Linked DNA regions of Homo sapiens: region 1 is linked to region 2. Evidence: fine-mapped QTL for protein levels in blood plasma. Region 2 holds a variant in brackets. A gene starts in the other region. All regions are shown on their forward strands.

The links. PIP is the posterior inclusion probability: the model's chance that the variant is causal. The UK Biobank Pharma Proteomics Project read protein levels with antibody pairs (Olink). The fine-mapping took linkage between variants from a reference panel, not from the people measured, so its PIPs are less certain.
Region 1: CRLF1 starts here. The variant in region 2 is fine-mapped to the plasma level of the CRLF1 protein (UK Biobank, PIP above 0.99).

Annotation. Positions count from the first base shown.
Region 1 is chr19:18,601,982-18,611,953 of GRCh38, forward strand. It overlaps CRLF1 (cytokine receptor like factor 1), which reads right to left and starts at 4,818. Exons shown (of 9, transcript NM_004750.5): 1 at 4,561-4,818. The coding sequence starts at 4,675. RefSeq lists an enhancer at 3,940-4,858.
Region 2 is chr5:173,330,905-173,340,911 of GRCh38, forward strand. It overlaps LOC124901137 (a long non-coding RNA gene), which reads left to right. Exons shown (of 2, transcript XR_007059056.1): 2 at 3,906-4,218. Among named protein-coding and RNA genes, the nearest start is that of STC2, 7.5 kb to the left of the region's middle. RefSeq lists an enhancer at 1,040-1,179. The variant TA/T (reference allele first, on the strand shown) is at 5,747.

The DNA.
Region 1 (9,972 bases), not on the chromosome of region 2:
TTCCCTCCACTCAGTTTTCCTCATCTGCAAAGTGAGAACGAGAAAGCTCTTTGTCTCCTGGGGTATTGTGAAAGTCAGAGGGGAAAGGACTTCCTGAACCAGGTTGTGTGTGAGTCAGGTACTAGGCACAGGAAACTTGGGGACGCCCATGGGTGGTTGATGCCTCTCTCTCCTGCTGGCCATCAGGGCAGCCCAGGAGTTCCCCTTCTGGAGACCAGAACCTTGTCCATAGGGAAACCAAGGCCCAGAGGAGGAGGGGGTGCACAGGCCAACCTCCCAATGCCTCTCTGAGTCTCAGTTTCCCCATCTGGAAAGTGGACATCATGGCGTCAATGTCATGGGGTTGGCTGGGTGCGGTGGCTCATGCCTGTAATCCCAGCACTTTGAGAGGCTGAGGTGGGAGGATCACGTGAGGTCAAGAGTTTGAGACAGCCTGGGCAACATGGTGAAACCCTGTCTCTACCAAAAATACAAAAATTAGCCAGGTGGGGAGGGGGTGGTGGCCCCATGCCTGTGGTCTTAGCTACTTGGGAGGCTGAGGCAGGAGGATCGCTGGAGCCCGGGAAGTTGAGGCTGCAGTGAGCCATGACTGCACCACTGCACTCCAGCCTGGGTGACAGTGAGACCCTGTCTCAAAAAAGAAATAAAAAATTTAGATTTAAATTTATAAAAACCAACAAAACAAACCTCATGAGGTTGTTTGAGAGGAGTGAAAATATTGTTGGAGACAATATTTTCCCATGAGATCTTTAAACCAAGTTGACCTGGACTCGAATGCCCCCAGCCTGACTCAGTGTTCTACTTTTTTTTTTTTTTGAGACAGAGTCTCACTCTGTCACCCAGGCTGGAGTGCAGTGGCACAATCTCGGCTCACCATAACCTCCACACCCAGCTAATTTTTGTATTTTTAGGAGAGACGGAGTTTCGCCATGTTGGCCAGGCTGGTCTCGAACTCTTGACCTCCAGTGATCCACCCGCCTTGGCCTCCCAAAGTGCTGGGATGACAGGCGTGAGCCACTGCACCCGGCCTCAGTGTTTTACTTCTTTGAGCCTCTGGAAAGGGGCTTCTCGTTCCACACAGAGTGGTTGTAAAGACTCATCCACGCCTTTGTTCGTTCACGCGTTCATCTATTCATTCACAGGGTACCTATAGTGTGTCCGGATCTGTGGGCACTGGGGTGATGCCCAAGACACACAAAAGTCCTGCCCTTGTGGGCATCAAATCCAAGGAAGCAGCAGGAAAAAGGAATAAATAAATATCTAAGACAATAACTAGGGGAGAAAGTAAAGCAGGGGCTGGAGGAAGACAGAGCAGCGGCAGAAGCTTGGGAGGCCTGTCTGGGGAGGTGACCTTTGAGCAGAGACCTGAATAAAGTAAGAGAAGTAGCTGTGACATTATCTAACAGAGCATGTCCAGGCAGTGGGAGCTGCAAGTGCCAAGGTCCTGGGGCAGAAGCGGTGGGAAATGAGGTTTGAGAGGTCAGAGACCCTGACCTGCAGGGAGGAGGGATTCCAGGGTTCTCAGCCGGGGAGGGAGGGATGCGGTGAGATATGCGTTAAAAGGACTCCCCAGGCGGCTGGAAGAAGGGACTGCAGGAGGCAGGGGCAGCCCAGCTTCGCAGAGATGGCAGCCAAGGACAGGGTGATCCTGGCCCCCAGGGAGGCCCCCTGAATGCCAGCGCTGCCCTGCACTTGCCCTCACTGCCCCAGATGGGCGAGGTGGGGTGGACACGGTTCTTGGGCCGGCCCTGATGATTTTCCGGGGCAAACTTGGCTCGAGGGCTCTGTCTCGCTGGAGCCTGGAATCGCAGTTGCGCTTGGGGCTTGGCCCAGGGCTCGCCGGAGGTCTCCGCGTCCGTGCGAAGGAGCCGGCTGAGCGGGCCAGAGCCGAGGAGGCGGGGGCGGCCGAGGGGGGCGGGGGGCTGGGGGCCAGGGGACCGCCCTGGAGGTCCCAGGCAGCCAGCCGCCCGCTAATTCGGAATTCCTTTTGCATGAACTCGGGTGTGCCAGCGTCTCTGCCCCGGCCCACCCACCGCTTCCTGCCTGGGCCCCCCCAACAGAGTGGGAGGCACGGCCAGGCCTGCCCAGACCCCAGGCCCCTCTCAGCCCTTCTAGAGTGGGTCTCACTCCTCCTGCCCCCACCACCCGCCAGCTTGGCCTGGGCAGGAAGGGGCTCTCTGGGGGGTCCTGGCTGGGGGGCGCTGCCCCTCTGCCACACCCGCCTGGCCTGGGCCGGCGTGGCTCACTTGCCAGCAGCTGCAGCTGCCCTCCCGGGGCTGGGCGGGGGACACCGGGCGGCGACGGGTTGTAGGGGGAAGGCAAGGCCAGGCGGGCCTGGACAGACCAATCTCCCACCCCCTTAGCCCCAGCCGGTAAGGTCAGAAGGACACTTTCTCCTCCCGGGATATGGGCGCAACACCAGTGGGAGAACCTGGCCAATTGACTTCCCCTCTCCAGTTCTCAATTTTCTCCTCCATAAAATGGGAGGAGAAATACGTTCTACTTGCTGGGGAGATCAATGAGATGTGATTGCAATCCAATGTCCAGAGGGCTCAGAAGCCTGAAGCCCCCAGGAGCTGCAAAGATGACAGCCCCTCCCAGCTCTGGGGTCCCGGCTGACTAGGCACTCCCTCCAGGCCTCCACAAACAATGGGCTAAGGCGCTGGGGACAGAGATGCACGCACTCCAGGCCAGGCAGGGGAGCAGCTGGGAACAGCCCACTGAGCCGGAGTTGGTGGGGGCTTGGCTTGGTTTGGAGGGCCTCCTAGGGCTCCCCAAAGCAGATCCCTAGGTTGGGCTTTTGAACAGCTCCCTTTTCACTCCCTGCCTCCCCTCCTTTCCCGCAGAGCTGGGGCCTTTAAAAGTTTTTTCTCTCCTCTTTTCCCAATCTGGAGCCACTGCCGTTATTAAAAAGGAACACCATGTGTTTTAAAAGGGAAAAGTGTGAGATTCTCTGCAAGCAGGGCGGAAGGGTGGCCTCCATCCCAGGGTCCCCACGGGGGTCCCCATCTCCCGTCCCGCTGGTACCTGCAGACACTTTACGACCCACCCGCCTGCTGGTCAGGTGCTAAGACACACCGTAAGTAGAAACATATTGCCGAGGTGTGAGAATCTTTTATTTAATTTCTTCCCCCCTTAAAGGAAAAAACACACTTACAGTGCCCCCCCACCCCCTACACCTTCGCCTGCTGCTCTACTGGCTGAAAACAAAGCTTGGCGCTCACAGTGGCACTCACAGGCGCTGCCCACCGCCTGGCAGAGCCGTCAGGGGCCCTGGGAGGGCCCGAGGTAGCCCCTCACCTGAAAGCCAGGGGAGAGCCAGGCTTTCAGCAAGTGCCCCTAGAAGATGCCCGGACCCTGCCCCTTCCCGGAGGAGCCCTACAGGCAGCCCGCAAACAGCCCAGCACAGGGTGGATGAGCCTGGGAGCAGTGTGTGCCCGGCGACCCCCGGGGTGGCCCGTGCGCCTGGATGGGGTGCGTGGAGTGACTGAACATCTGGGGCGAGTGGTGCCTGCCTCTGTGCCCCTGGGTCGCCTCCCCTGTGGGATGTGTGTGACCGTGAATGTGTGTGTCGGGGATGGAATGTGTGTGCGTCCGCGATGGTGCGCGAATGTGCACCTGGGATGCAGTGTGCGCGAGTTTGAGGGCGAGGGTGACGGGCCACAAGCCAGTGTGATTCTTTGTGTGTCTCTGGGTGTGTCCCAGAGCGGGTCTGCATACGGAGACGTATCCTTGCGGGGGTGTTCCTTGGATGGGGGGCCCCAGAGTGCCTGAGGCCAGAAGTCCCTCCAGGGCAGGGGTCTTGGCCCGTAGGGCAGCGGGTTCCCAGTGGGCCCCCTCAAAGTTTGGGCCCGCTGGTGCCCGGACTCACTGGCTCCCGCTCCCTCTCCCTCTCACCCACTCGCTCACAAAGATTCCTCTCGCTGGAGGCTCTCCGCCCGACGCAGCCTGGCTGAAAACGGTTCTAAGCGCCGCCGGTGGCGGGGACTCCGCGGACCCCCGTGCGCCGGGTCCCGCAGGGGGAGGGCGGTGGCGCCGGCCCGTGGAGACACAAGTCCCCCGGGACCCCGGGCTGCGCGCCAGGCGGCCAGAGCGGCCCCCCTGCAGCCCCGCCCTCCCCGTGGGGCTCATCCCTCCGCCTGGGGGGGCCCGCTGGGGGCCCGCACCCAGCGCGCCAACCGCGTGCGCCCCCGCCTGGGAGCGGTGCCCTGCAGTCCCAGGGGCCCAGAGTCCACCGAAGCAGACGCGTGCGCCCGCCACGTCCTGGCATGCAGAGGGTCTCAGGCCGCGATCCCCCCAGCCCCCGGGGGCCTGGCCTGGCGCCCTCGGCCCAGCTGCCCAGGTAACAGGGCCTCGGGCGCGGAAGCAGGACTCTCTGGACAGTGGACTGCGGCGCCGTGTGCCCCGCAGGTGAGGGCGCCCCGAGGGCTGCGCCGGGGGCGCCTTCCTTTGTTCCCCGGCCGTCCAGGTGGCGCCCGCGCCCCCTCCCCCCGCGGCTGCCCCCGGGGCGCCCGCCCTCTGCTCTGGCAGGGGGGAAGGAGTGGGGCGCCGGGTACTCACGGGCTCCTGATCCGGCTCGCGGCGCCCCGAGGACGCAGAGCAGCAGCAGCAGGGGCAGCAACGGCGGCGGCCGCCGCGCGGATTGGGCGGCGGGGCCCCGGCGGCCGGCGGGCATGGGGCCGGCGCTGCCGGGGGCGCGCGGCGGGCTGCGGCTCGGCGGCGGTGGCGCAGGGCGCGGGACGCAGGCCGGGCGCGGGAGGGCGCGGGCCAGGCCGCCCGCACGTCGCTGGGCGCGGACGCGGAGGCCGGAGCAAGTCTGAGCAGCCGAATTGACAAGGCGCTAATGCGCCGCTGGCCCCGCCCGGCCCCGCCCCCGGCCCGGCCCGGCCCCGGGGGGGCGGCGGGCCCCGCACCGGCCTCCCCGCCGCCCGCCCGCCCGCGGGCACCGCGCGCCCCGCCCGTCCCGCCTCCGCCCCACCGAGAACCGCGCGCGCCCTATCCCGCGGCCCAAAGCCCCCTAACTCAACCCCTACCGGCCCAGGACCTCCCTCTCCAACCCTGCCAGCTCCAGGCTTCCCACCCCCAGTCTGGGACCCGGCACCCCCAATCCCGTTTCCATAACCCTGCCCACTTCCCTGCACCCTCCTCTCAGCCCAGTGCCTCTTCAGTGGCCCCTTTGGTCCCCAACCCTGCCCCACTCCTCCATTCCCCCTTCCACGGCCCAATCTTCTGTCTCGGCCCCCACCCCAGCTCTGGCCCCGCCCCCCCCACCGAGCGGTCCTTGAGTCCCGCCTACCCCCATCTCCAGCCCCTCAGCCTTCCCAGGGGCCTAAAAGTCACCCCCAGCCCCACGCCCTCGGCGCGCGGGTTCCAGCCCTCCCACCTCATCCTGCCTCTTTTCGATTCTCCGCGAGTAGCCTCGGCCCCAGGCTTTGCTGGAAGAAAGGAGAAAAAGCAGGAAGGCACGGAGTCCCTCGCCTTCGCCCTGGCTGCGCTGTCCCCTTCGCGCGCGGGATGGGTTTGAGGTTGCTCTGGGCGCCCCGGGGGCCTCGGGAGGGAGCTCCTGCGTGGGCAGACGGGGAGATGTAGTCCCCTGTGGGAGCCGGGACCCAGGCCTGCGCGGGAACTGGGTCCCGCACCGCAGTAAGAGGGATTCCCAGGAGGAGAGCGGTAAGAAGCTCTTTCCCCGGGACCTATTCACACCCCGCCACGGAAAAATCCACTCAGCGGCCCGCGGGTGGGGTGCGCCACGCGGTGAGTAATCGCTTCGGCGGCCACCGCCCGCCGACTCCAGGTAACGCCGGCTGCCCGGAGCGACGCATAGTTTGTCTTCCTTCTTTTGCGCAAAGAGCCTTCTCCGTGTTATTATTTTTGGCCATTGCTCGAGTTTCGGGACCCCTCCCGGTCCGGGCGTCTCATCTCCCTCCTCCCGGTCCCCACCCGATGCGGGCGCCCAGGAATAAAGGGTTCCTGGCCTCCAAGGCTGCTGCGGATGGGGGTGCCTGAAATGAGAGTTGGGGGGTGCAATTACCCACTTTTGGTCGCAGCCCCGCCCCCAGCTGCAGCGCCCAGGGAAGGGAACGGCTCCAAGTCCCCTTTTCCAGGAGTCCCTTAGAGGCCTGGATTCTCTCTCCTGGTCCCCAACCAGCCAAGGGGGTAAAAGTGTCTGAGGGGGGCTCAGGAGCCCCCATTTGTCTGCCCAAGACTGAAGCCCCACCCTCTCCTACTTAAATCTCCAGTTCAGACTCCAGACTGTCAAAAAACAAGATTGGGGGATGGGAGCCTATAGGGGCCCAGGGCGCCCCTGCTCCATCTGAATTCTGGATGGAGAAGACAGACAAGGAGAGACGCTGCCATTTACTTCGGGAAACCAGGCCTTTTGTGCCTCAGTTTCTTCCTCTGCACAGTGGGCACCACCCAGTCTAGGAGCTTCTGTGGGAAGACGCAGGGCAGCAGAAGTCTCTACAATCCAAGCCCTTAGCACAGCACTGGAGGATATCCTGGAGCAGAGGTGACCCCCAGCCCTGCTTGTCCCCTCTGAAACATGGAGCCATAGTCCCACCTGCCAGGGGACCCAGAGGGTTAAGTGGAGGTGGCAGTCCTTGGCTGGAATTGAGTTTTTAGGATACTCACCACTACTCCCCCATGGCTCCTGTCTGCAGATGCTCTCTGTGTGGATAGAGACGCCTCACTCCCTCCTGGGAGGACTTCAGGCTTCTGGAGCAAAACCTTGATTTTTTCCTCCCTCCATTTCTGCTTCTCTTCCAGTCATTTTGGTTTTGGGAAAGGGCTCTCCCATCCATCCAGGTGCTCAGGCCAGAGACCTGGAAGCGCACGTGACAACTCTCTCCTTTGCTCATCCCTCATGTCCAATTCATCAGCAAATCCTGTTGGCTCTGATTCTAAAACACATCTCCATTCTGAGATGCTGACCCCTTTTTCCCACCCCATTCAGATCCAGGCCCCACGGTCTCCCTCAGGGATGCTTCCCGGCCTCCTCCAGGGCCTCCCTGATAACCCTTCTGCCTTTCTCGGCACACCAGGCAGAGGGAGCTTTTAAAAGAAGAAAAAGCAGATCTTTGTCCTGCCACCCTCTCGCCATCCTCTCCCCTCCTCTTCTTCCCTCTCCTCTTCCCCCTCCTCTCCCTCATTCCGCCCCAGCCACTGGAGCCCTGTTTCCCAAAACATACCAGGCTTGTTACTATAGAAGGGCCTCTGCGTGTTGGCTGTTCCCTCTGCTGGAATGCTGTTCCCCACATCTTCCCCAGTTGGCCCTTTCTCTTCCATCACTTCACAGGATTAGTGCCACCTCCTCAGAGAGGCCCTCCACCCTTCCCCCAGCACTCTCCCTCTCCTTCACTTTGTTTTATTGTTTTTGAAACACAACTCTTCCAACCATTTCATTTCTTGTGCAACTGATTTTCTTTAGACTGTGGGCAGCCTCAGCCCCTTTGGACCCCAGTGGTGGGCCCAGTGAGGGCTGAAAGCGAAGCACTCACTAAATATTTGTAAAAGTAAAGGATGGAGAACTCTTACTCCCTCCAAGTAGCAAGAAAACTCAGTCCTAGCAAGTCATGCTGCCTGGGGTCCTAGCCTGGCCCACACTCTGTGTCTTGCTGTGTGACCCTAGCCAGTAGACATCCCTCTCTTGTTCTTACCAACAGAAGGGAAGGACCATTTTCCAATCCTGCCCAGCCCCACCCTGGAGTGTGACTTCTGCCCTTGGGTGATCTTTACCCCACACCTTTGACTTCAGGGAAAGGGAATTGACCCCAGAGTGCATCCTTCCCGGCCCTTAGGGCCCCCAGAAGTTTAACCCTTTACTCCCCAGTTCCATTATCTCCTTGAGGACAAAAGGGAGCTAGCGTCAATGGAACTTCTGGCAAATATTGACCCAAGTCCTTGAAGTTGGCTGGGAATGTGTAAGGGGCAGAAGGAGGGAGGGCCTCCCCTTGGGCAGAGGGAGGGCCTCCCCTTGGGCTGGGGGAGGGACCCCTCCTTAGTCCTGCACCCTCCACTCCAAGGTCACCTCTGGATGAGAGGTATTAGGTTGGGGGGGGGGCCTCCATCCCCAGCTCCCTCGTGATTCCAGGGCACTGAGGGTGCACCAGGGAGGGGGCAGTGGAAATGGCACCTTCAGGGTCCTGTGGGGACCCACAACCACTGGGAGTGAGGAAGGCTGAGAGCTGTCTCTCCCATTCTGAAAGCCCCGTGCTCAGGGCTCCCCAGTATGGGATTAGCTACCTGGTGTTCCAGGCAGGTGCTTTCAGGAATTAAGGGGCAGTGAGGGTCTGGACACCTGGTTCAGGGTCTGTGGCACAGGAAAGTGGGGCCCGTGTGTACCTAGGCTTTATAATTTCTGCCCTGGAGGCTGAGCCTGGGGAGAAGCAATGCCTGGGTGCTCAGTGTAATGCACACTGGACTTCAGGCACTGGAGGCGGGACCTGGGGAGTTGCAGACCTGCCTAGGGGACCTGCCTGGGAAGTTGCAGGCCTGCCCCAGGGAGGCCAGTTTCCCTGCCCGTCTGTACCCTGAGAAGCCTCTGAAGTCTGGGTCCCAGGAGGCACCAGCTGCTTTAGGGGGACAGCCACATCCCTCCGTCCTCCCCCAACAACCCTCAGCAACCACCACCGGCGCCATGGTGCTCTGCCTCCTCCCTGGCCTGTACCCTGCTTGGAGGTGGGGGTCAGCAGGGTCGTGGTGAGGGCGGCAAGGGACAAAGGGTGCTTGTCCGCTGCCCGCCTTGACCTCGGCTGCTGTGGCTTCCCGGACGCCTGGCCTGCCGCTGATTCACGCCCAGGCCGGCCTCAGCGCCCCCCGCCTGCCGCCCCCAGCCAGGCCGCCCCGGGGGGTAGGAAGTGGGGGGGGGGGCGAGGGCGGCGCCGAGTCAACTTTCCCTCTTAAGCCCCGAAGGAATGTCGGCGGATTTCCTGAAACCCGACCCTGGCCGCCCGCCGGCCCTCCCGCCCCTCACCTGGACCGGCTCCCCCGGGAACAGCAGGAGGGGCGCGGGGGCTCACCTTGGGGGCCGGGGTCAAGTCCTCTTTCCGCTCACCCCCCCAGCGGCCTAGTGCAGCGGAAAGGGGGCTGGGTGTGCGGCAATCAGCCTCTTTCCCTTCTCCCCTCAGGCGACCTGGGTGATCGACCCACTCCTCCAGCCTCAGTTTCTCCTTCTGCAAAAGGGCGCGGGGTGTCCCTCCTCCCTGATGCGTTTTAAGCAATGCCCAAAGGTCACCTCCCATCATTGGCAGGGCTCTGCCGGCTTTTCTTTGCTTCTCTCCCTGTCACCTGGACAGAACCACTTTGCAGTCTGAGCATCAGTTTCCTCACCCATATAAAAGGGCAACGCTACCGGTACCTGTCTTATACGGTTGTTGCAAGAAAAAGTGTTTCGTTGGAATGAATGAAAGACAGTAATTGTGGAGGGGTTAGGCGCGCGCGGGCCTCTGGAATTAGCATGTGTGGGCTTGAATCCTGACTTTGCCAACGCGTCCCGGAGCCTAAGTTTCCCACCTGTGAAATGGGGGACAGTATTGGTCATAACGCACAGGGCTGTTTCCCAAGGTGCGGGCCTGGCGCGCGGGTGGGTTAGAAGCGGAATTCTCCTGCTGGATTCTGGCGCAAACTGCGGGCTGGAGGCCCTCGCCGCCGGGTCGCAGCGGCCTAGCATGGGAGGGGAGGGGAGGGGCGGGGCGGGGCGGGGGAGGGGCCGCACCGGGATCCAGATGTTCGGGGTCCGCCAGGCACAGCCGCGCCTGATTAAGCCACGTGGGGGCCGGCCGGGGGCCGCTGAGATGAAAGCGCGGCCGCAGGCCAGAGTAGGGGGTGCGCCGGGCCCCCACCCGGGACACCCTCTTCCCAGGCCGAAACCTGAGCCGCCCTCTAACCCGCAGACCCTGCGAGGCTGCCGCCCCGTCTGCGGGGGCGGAGCGTAGGTGGGGGACCTGCGGGCTGCTGCGCGGCGCTGCAGGC
Region 2 (10,007 bases):
CATAGTAGCTAGAATTGGAGGTGGCGTAAGCACAGGCACTAGTTCTTAAGGGTTTATCTCTGGGCCACTTAGCCAAGTCCAAAGCATCCAGATAAGAATGCCCATCTGAGTCCGACCCGCCAAGGCTGTGAAAATTCCCTTGCAGAATCACTAGGCAGTTTGCTGAAATGGCCAGTCTAGGCCGCAGGGGTAGAAGTGGGATGGGGGCTCAGACTGGTGACTTTGTTGTGATTGACTCCCCCTCTCTCTGGCTGATTCCTTTAGCTTTATAACTGAGGCCAAGTTTGGCAGACTGTGGCTGATGAGGGTGGGGCAGGGGACAGTAATAATAATCATTATTACTATTATATAGCTAACATGACACCGCACCACACACCACACTCATGCCTTTGGTGTCCCTCCAGACCTAGGGCCCTCCCTAGATGGGAACTGAGGCCTGGGAGGTCTCCTGGATGGACCAGCTGCTGTCCTGAGGTTCAGCAGCACCTGTCTGGATGGGCCCTCCTCCTCAATTTAACGCATACACAGCCAGGAAGAGGCAGACATGACCTACCTTGTGTCATCCAGGGCCTTCTGTGGTTGACGCCTGGAGCCCATGTTTTCCTGTCTAAATCCACTTTGCTAGTTACATGCGGTCAACACTGAGTGGCAGGTTTTGGGGGAGGGGATATTTGGGTTAGACCATGAAGGATGGGGGAGGATAGTGACAAGTAGAGGCAAGGAAAAAAGTGGGCATGGGAGGTGGGAGGACCAGCAGGGCTAAATGCATGGAGAGGATCCGGTGGGATTTGTATCAGGAATAGGGGTTGCCCAGTTAGGTGTGAAAGTGGGACATCAAACTGGGGAAGTCGGCCAGGGCATGTTGTGAAGGCTGGGCTCCTTGTGACAAATCTGTGCTCCTCACGGAAGATCTGACGGTATTTAAGGATGAGACTGTAGGGCGCTTTAGACTAGGTTCTCTTTAGGAATTAGGAAATGCTCAGGGGCCCAGAGCTGCCATTGTGGAGAAAGAGCAGAGGAGTGGGAAGGAATTAGTTGGAATCTTCACGTGCGTCTCGATGCCCAGCAAGACAGACGTGTTCTTGCTCGAGTGTGAGCCGAAGGGGCTTTAGCGGATGGGCATAGTTCGTGGGTGCTGAGTCAGTGATGTGCAAGTTGACACGTGCTGCCTGGTCCAGGCTTTCTGAGTTCCGGAACCTGAGTGGAGAACATGGCTTACACGTGGGGAGCTCCACCCACTGCACGCCCCGCCCCCTTGGGGCCGACTGTCTGGGCTGATGGCACCACCTTATGGTCAGAGAGGGAACTGTCTGGCTACACAGTCCTCACGACTCTGCCTGCCTGGAAAGTTCTGATATTGGGTCTCCAGCCTTCTCCCCAGTTTCCTTTCCTTTTCTTAGCAAATCAATTAATGCAGATTTAGCCAATCTCCTCGCAATAACATGCCTTAATCCCCCCATCAAAGAGATCTCTTTCACACTTATTTTCCCTCTTGCTCCCCTATCCGTTGCTGTTTTCCTTTGTGAGTCTCAAATTTACCCTAATCCTGGCTCCTGTGCATCATACCTGTATGAAGGAAAATGAAAAAAGGTATCAAGGTGAAACCGGACAGAAAAAAATAACAAACTGCTGCTATCAGGCCTCCCAAATTATCTTGCAAGCAGAGGTCTCTCCCTAAAAAGCCTCCATCTCCCAGCACTTTGGGAGGCTGAGGTAGGTAGATCGCTTGAGCCCGGGAATTCGAGACCAACCTGGGCAACATGGCAAGACCCCGTCTCTACAGAAAATACAAACATTAGCCAGACGTGGTGGTATGTGCTTGTAATCGCAGCTACTCGGGAGACTGAGGTTCTGGGAGAATGGCTTGAGTCCAGGAGGTTGAGGCTGCAGTGAGCTATGATTGCACCACTGTACTCCAGCCTGGGTGACAGAGCAAGACCCTGTCTCAAAAAAAAAAAAGCCTCTATCTTTGCTCTTATCTTTTTTTCATTAAACTGGTTATTTCATTAAATATAATTCAGGATAAAGGAGATTATATCTTCAATATTTGGGTTTGTTTATTCTTAATACTATAACCAAATTATATTCTACTAATTTATACCATAAAAGTGCAGTGCCCAACAACACAATGAGTTAAGAAGGATTTTGTGGTGCTGGCCTGTAAACCTATCATGTATAATATTGTTTCTTGGAAGAAAATATATTCTGAGTTCCCCAAACAACCAACTTTGGAAGTGTGGGAACACAACGCTTTTGTGAATTGGGCATTTCCTCTCTGTCACAGATCAATAGTCAAACCATTCATGGATTGACTGGAAATACAAAAGAAAAAAAAGCATTAAAAAAACCCCCAAGAGAGTAGGAACACAATAAACCCATTTACTGGAAGGAATATAAAGTAGTAAACACTGGGCATCTGACTGTAGTCTGAGTTTTGTTAACGCCTTTCTCTGAAGCCTGAATGGTATTCCAGAAGGCCTCTCTGTTTTACATGGGTCATAATTTTTTCTTCCTTGTTGTATCTTGAGACAAACTCCAGGAGAACGTATCCCAGGCAAGGGGCTGCCTGGCTTCCATGGAGAGTACTGGTTGGGCCCAGAGGCAGGCATTGTGGTGCTGGAATAGTATGATAGAGCTCTCTCTGGGTGGGTTTTAACTTTGGTTGGAGAATGGTTGGATGTCAAGTGGCTGAAGGAAGAATCTTTTTGTGGGGCAGTTTTCTAGGGAGCCACATTTTGAAAGCTCCAGGAAACGACCAAATCTATTAATGTGATTTAACTTTCAGTATGTTATCAGGGTCCATCGGACCCAATTTTAGATTTTGAAGGTGTTTTTTTTTTTCCTGAGAAATTCTAACAATTTGTAAGGATTGGTATTTCATGACTTTTGTTTGTTTTCAGAAGTCTTCTGAAGATGAAAGATAACATCTAGTTTTTAACAAAAATAGAATAAAACTCATTCTATCTTGAAGTTACCATATGACTATTGAAATAATTTATAAATTGATGATGTATCATAGGATCTTAGAGATCTTAATTTTCTTATATCTTTAAACATCTTCCATTTTATCACCCTAGAAATTATTTCATCATTACTCATCAATTATTGCCAATTATGGTAAAAAAAAAAAAAACACCAATAAGAAATGGGAGAATCATGGAATCACCTAGAAGGATGATGCAAGAATGAAACAAATTATCACTGTTGTATCATCCTTCAGGTTTTTGATCACATTGCCTGAAGTATTACATCATTTCTCGAGAAAGTATAAAAGAAGACAGAGGATACCATTTTTGTAGTCTTCTTCTTCTTACTTTTATCAAATATAGTTGTAAATTCAGCTATATTTTTCATTTTTCTGCACAAACTGTAAAGAGAAGAAAAGTGACAGAGGAAAATGTTGTACAGTTATTAGTCAAATCAGAAGATGAATGCAGAGAGACAGCACTATGGAAGACTCGATAATGGCGAAACTGACTGAAGTGTATAAGCAAAGTCTCAGACTATGAGTCCTACATGATAATAACCTAGATTAATTTCCTCAGATTTAAGGATTCATGAGTAAACAATATATTTCTAAGGATAACAAAAAATATGATATTCTCATCCTGTTAGTCATTCAACAGGAATGATTTCATCACACTATATTTTGCCGCAAAAACTTGGAGCATCCTGTTTTGCTAAAAGAATGGGGGCCAATTTTTTTTTTTTTTACTTTTTATGTTTGTTTATTGAAATTTTCTTGATACAGTTTGAAGGGGACAAATGATGAAGTCAGATCAAAGGTGAGTACAAAGATGATTGAAAAGAAATAGGTGGTATGGAAAGGAAAGAAAAAAATCACTGGACTAAACATTCTAATTGGTGTTTATAAATTTAAAAATAAAAATGCTTTTCAATTACAGAGAAAAGAAGATGACCATCTTCTCCTGAACAAAATTATGAACTGTCAGAGGTTTCAAAGGTAATAAGTTTTATGATGCAAGTGGAAGAAGAACCAGAAGTAATGATGAGCTAGAACTTATCAGAGATTTCCTTGAAATCAGGACTTGGTGTTTATAAGATGGGTCTGTCCCAGGCTTATGCATGACAGCTGGTGAGCAGTTAGTTGCATGCAGAGGACATTGCTCATTTTGGGCCTATCTACACTCAAAACCAGGAAAATATGCTGTGAAAATTTGCTATTACTAACGTCTCTAATAAAGTTTTAAAAAACGATCCTTTTAGTCTTACTTCTGTAGATTTATTCATAAACATAGAAAGGATCCATTGGACCCTGATGGTAAAAGATGATGATGACATTTTCCTGCTACACCGGGGGCTAAGAGTTTAGGGGCAAAATATTAAAACAAAAATGAAGTAAACTCCTTTAGCAAATGGGAGTCACTGTAGAGGTCTCCATCCATTCCCAGCCCTTTCTTACACAGGCCCACCATTGATTGATGATTACTTTAAAGATGGATGGTTTGAATGTGAGACATCGTCACACAGCCTCTCTGTTTATTCCTTTCTTTGGTGTAACTCAGTTCTTCTCAAATTCTGGTGGTGATAAGAATTACTATACAGGACTGATAGAATATCTCATGGACATTATATCTTAATGAATATTTTACAGACGTTTTAAGATTAATTTTGACCACAGAAGCTTTTCACTTTGAAGATTTTAGAATCTAACCCACTCTGACATATATTCATTCATTCAACAAACTCTTGTGCATGTCTGTGTACTAGATTAGGTGTTGCATCCTGGGAAACGGAAAAGATAGACACAGTTGCTGCCCTTATTGTGGTAGCAATCCAGAGGGAGGAAGCAGTAATTTTTATAGCATCACATGGCAGGAGTTACGATACAGATGAACCAGGAGAATGGGTGAGGGACATGGGAAAGGTGTCAACGATGAAAAATGTTAGTTTTTATACTCACTTAAAAAAGTAGAAATTGGATCCTGGAGAATTGGAGGGTGGCATTTCGAGGATGGAGAAGAGGAGAAAGAAGAATCCAGGCAGATGGACCAACACACGCAGAGGCCTAGAGGAGCGAGCAAGCAGCATGTTGCAGAAGCTGGGTGATTTGGCATGGCTAGGAGGGACCGTGTTTCGGGGAGGAGAGGACCCACAGTTGGAACCTTGACTGGGGTTAGACCCCAGGACTTGGTATATCTGGCTTCATCTGCAAGTAACAGAAAGCCCAGCGCAAACCTCTTAAACAATAAAGGAGAGTGCATTGTTCCAGGAAGTCCTGAGGACGTGGGAACTGCAGATGGATTGGAGGGGAGACCCCTGAGTCAGGGACCCATTGAGAAGTCAGGTGGTAAATTGGAAATGGGAAGGAAGAGGTGATTTTGAGGAGCGTGTAGGGACAAACTGGCATGATAACCAAGTTTCGCACAGAAAGCGTAAGTGAGAAAAACGATGGCAGTTTAAAGCCTCTCTTTGATTATCCCCTTGTCACCTTTCCCTCCCTCCTGTCCTATAACACCTTTCCCACCCCTCCTTCGCCATCCCCCATCTCCAGCAAAGACCCCAGGAGTGATGTTTGGTATCCTCCTTTCCTTCACACCTCGGCATGAAACTCACCATCAATTCTTGCTGTTTTCCTCTTCCCATTTCCACCCTCCAAGCCTCAGTTAACTCTGTCTTGAACCACTGCCGGGTTAACCAGCTGGTTTCTTGTGTCCACTTTCACTTGCCAATACTCTCTCCAATCCAAATTCTCTGCATCATATGTAGCCAGATTAATAATGAT[TA/T]AAAAAAAAAAAAACCAAACCACCAAACGAAAAGCCCCCAAACCAAATCATACCTCTCACTTGCTTAACTCCAGAGGCCTCCTTGGAATAAAATCCACTCCTGTCCACATGGAAGGCCCTGGGAGATCTGGCCCTGCTGGTGTGCAGATCTCATGGAACCTACTCTCTCATTTCCTCATTCCCTTCTGGTGCCTTTTTTTTTTCTTTCTTTTTTTTGAGATGGAGTTTCGCTCTTGTTGCCCAGGCTGGAGTGCAGTGGTGTGATCTTGGCTCACTACAACCTCTGCCTCCCGGGTTCAAATGATTCTCCTGCCTCAGCCTCCTGAGTAGCTGGGATTACAGGCATGCACTACCACGCCCGGCTAAGGTTGCATTTTTTTAAATTTTTTTTTTTTTGAGATGGAGTCTCGCTCTGTCGCCCAGGCTGGAGTGCAGTGGCGTGATCTCGGCTCACTGCAAGCTCCGCCTCCCGGGTTAACACCATTCTCCTGCCTCAGCCTCCAGACTAGCTGGGACTACAGGCGCCCGCCACCACACCCGGCTAATTTTTTGTATTTTTGGTAGAGATGGGGTTTCACCATGTTAGCTAGGATAGTCTCAATCTCCTGACCTCGTGATCCGCCCGCCTTGGCCTCCCAAAGTGCTGGGATTATAGGCGTGAGTCGCTGTGCCTGGCCCTGGTGCCTTTTTTCTTTACTGCAAATTAGCCAAGCTTTTCCCCCTGCTTTAGGGTCTTAATGTAGGCTGTTCCTGCAAATCAGAGGTCTCGCCCAGTTATTACCTTGTTTATTTATTTGTTTTAATGGTTTCTTGCCTTATTCCTTCTCCTACCCAAAATGAATGATAAATTCCCTGATGGAGAGGACGTTGCCTGCCATGTTCAACGTCCAATCCCCAGCACCCACTACAATGGTTGACACACAGCTTTAAATGTGTGTATGTGCGCCTGTGTGTGTGTGGTTGTGTGTGTGTGTGTTGGATGACAAAAGGCCCCTAGTTCCGTTTGCGGAACTGGGACTCAGAGAGGGGGAGCCCAGTTTGCAGAGGAAGGTGTCGAAAGCAAGGGATGAGCAGGCCATTCAGGTGAGATGTACAATAGACAATTCAGATCCTCCTTACTCTTGTAGCACTTCCTCATTCCATACTGCTTTATGCGGAGATTATTTATAGGTTAAAAGTGCTTTTGTAGACATGGCCCCTTTAGACCTCTCTACAACCTTGGAAGGGAGTAGAATGATTATTCCCATTTTACAGATTAAAACCTCGAGCACAGAGATTCTTGTCTGAGGCCCACACAGCTGGAAGGCTCTAAGTCCAAATTTGAACCTGGGTATTCAAATCCCCAGATCTTTGTATTTTATTATGGTTTTAGAAGTCATGACCCATTTTCTCCACCTTTACCAGTGAACAATAAGGATGACGAATCATGTTGCAAAACACTTTCATTTTGATGCTGATCAAACTGAGCTTAGTTTGCACGTGTATATATATATATATATATATATATATATATATATATATATATATATAGGCTAAGCCATATATATGTGCGTATGTATATATTTTCTCCCTAAGATCTTAAAACCTCGAGAAAGGCAGAAGAACTAGGGAGAGATAAAAATATAACTAGAAGAAAGGGCTCAGAGGGAACAAATGAAAAGAAACAAAGGTAGGATTATAAACTAAAAGAAAGACAAAGAACATATTTAAATTATTCTTGTTTTTTGGCAAGGTTATCAACAAAAAGATGTGGGTAACAAGATAAATTAGGCACACTAAACTAAAGCAAGAAGGCTTATAATTGATGAAGAAAAAAAAAGAAGAAAACAGTTCCCTTGGGGGAGGCAGAAGAAAAGCGAGGCGGGGCAGAGGGAGGTGGCCATGGATCAGCACAGCTCAGCCTGGCCAAGCCATTCCCATACGGTGAGCACTGGAGGCCCAGCATGTGGTGGGTGTTTAGGGAAGACAGAAAAGAGGAAGATGTTAGGCCCTTGACTTCAGTTTGCTGATGGCAGCCACATGGGGAAAGGTTCGAGGGCAAGGAGAGATGATCTATGGGGTGCGCAAGTGGGGATGGCTTTGGTGTGGGTGGGAAGGGTAGGGGCTTGGAGCTAGGTGTCGAGGGATTCGAGTCTCAGCCTTGATGTGGATTAGCTGTGTGACCATGACCAGATTACTTAACCTCTCTGAGCTTCAATCGGGTCAACATAGGCACAGGAATAACACTATGTACTTTATAGGTTGTCATGGGGTTAAATGTGATCATGTGTCGCAAATGTTGCTCAGTGTTTGGCGCCTGGCAGGCACTGCATAGCCATTGATTCCCTCACTGATCAAAGCAGGGGGTAGTGGCTGTGGCCATTCTGTGACAGGAATCTGAGTCTCAGTAAGAGTTGTGACTTTCTGTTCCTTTGGGCACTGTCTTCAAATCCTCAGAAGGCAGGAAGCAAGGAAACAGAGTCAGTGAGCTGTTCCCCCGTTCCCCCCGGTTGGGTGGCTCCATCTAGACTTGGAGATTGGGGTGGCTTTGATTTGTGAGGAAGCTGTGTGGGTCGTAACTGGGTACGTTTTTATTTGCGGGTTACTGTGTGCAGTAACTTACCACATTTGCTCTTTGAAAACGCCTTAATGGGCTGCTGTAGTAGAAAGAGAAAATCTTTCATTGGTATGTGTATGTCGTCCAAATGGTATTTTTAAAGATTTATTTTTGTGTGTTCACGATGTTCTTGAATAATGTTTCCATAAGTACGGTCAAAGATAAAACTTGAGCGGTGCACGAAATCTGGTCGTGCATATTTTAGAGTGTGACCGTCTTTTGACCAGCCGTGGGATCCATTTGTCAAGTTCTTCACTGACTTGTGTTTCCTTAGGAGGACTTGCTTGAGCCGGCTCGCTGATGGAGAAACTTCTGAACATGGGCCAAGCTAATGGTGATGGCCCTGTTGAGTGTCACCCTTTCTCCTTTTACCTGCAGCAGTGTGGCTCTCCAGCGGGACTAGTGGAGGCCAGAGCCTCATAGCTCAGTCATTTATCAACAAACAGCTGATGAGTACCTTTGATGTGCTGGGTGCTGTGTGGGGATTTGGGGGACACAGGTTGACTTAGATGGACAAACCAGCTGGTCACATGCAGCCAATCAAGTAACAAGAAAAGGGACGTGACTAAGGTCCTATGCTAGTCAGGGTGGTCAGGCAATGACTGAACTGGGGTCATTTCTCCAGGAACTTGAAAGACACAAAAAAGCCAGCCAGGGAAAAGCAGTGCAAGTGCAGAGGCCCTGGGGCTGGGATAAGTTGGCCTGTTCAAATAATGGAAAATGGGTTGGCACTGTGGTGGGAATGTATGTCCCCTCCAAAACTCATGTTGAAATGTAATCCCCAATGTAGCAGGATTGAGAAGTGGGGCTTTTAAGAGGTGGTGGGTTATGAGAGCTCTGCCCTCATGAATGGATTAATTCACTTGTGGGTTAATGGATGAATGGGTTATCATGGGAGGGGAACTAGTGGTTTTATGAGAAAAAAAAGACCTGGGCCTGCATGCTCAGCCTCCTCATTATGTGATGCCCTGCGCTGCCATGAGACTCTGCGGAGAGTCCCAAGCAGCAAGAAGGCCTTGGCAGATGCTCCCCCTCGACCTTGGATCTCTTGGCTTCCATAACTGTAAGAAATATGTTTCTTGTCTTTATAAATGACCCAGTTTCAGGTATTCAGCTATAAGCAACAGAAAACAGACTAAGACAGTTGGTGTGGCCAGAGCCTAGCGAGTGCTAGGAGGGTGGCAAGAATGAGTGCCCTAGGGTCAAGGGCCAGGGGAAGGAGTATGGATTTTATTGTAAAACATGATGGAACTCTTGAGCCCTGTAGGACTTGGAGGAGAAGGGCAGGGAGGGTACGCTAGGCAGAGGAAGCACTGGGCAAAGGCTGGGCAAGGGCACGGCTTTTAGGGCCTGGATAGACTGTGGTGGCCTGGGCAGTGCTTATCTCCCTTCACGTCTCTGCTCCTGTTTGCAGCTCTGCCTCCTCCGTGGCTCTGGGCCACCTGGCAGGAAATGGCCTCCCCTAACTCTGGAATGTTGCACCTCTGCTGTACAGAGCCCAGCCCAGAGCGAGCTGGAGTCTCTCAGCTCCGGTTCCAAATTCGTAATAGTTTCTAATTCCAGAGGAGAATCTGATTGGCTCCGATCCCTACTCCGATGTCTGTGGTCATGTGGTGTGAACTGGAGCCCACCCTGGGACCCTGTGGGTAGGGTGGGGAGGGCGG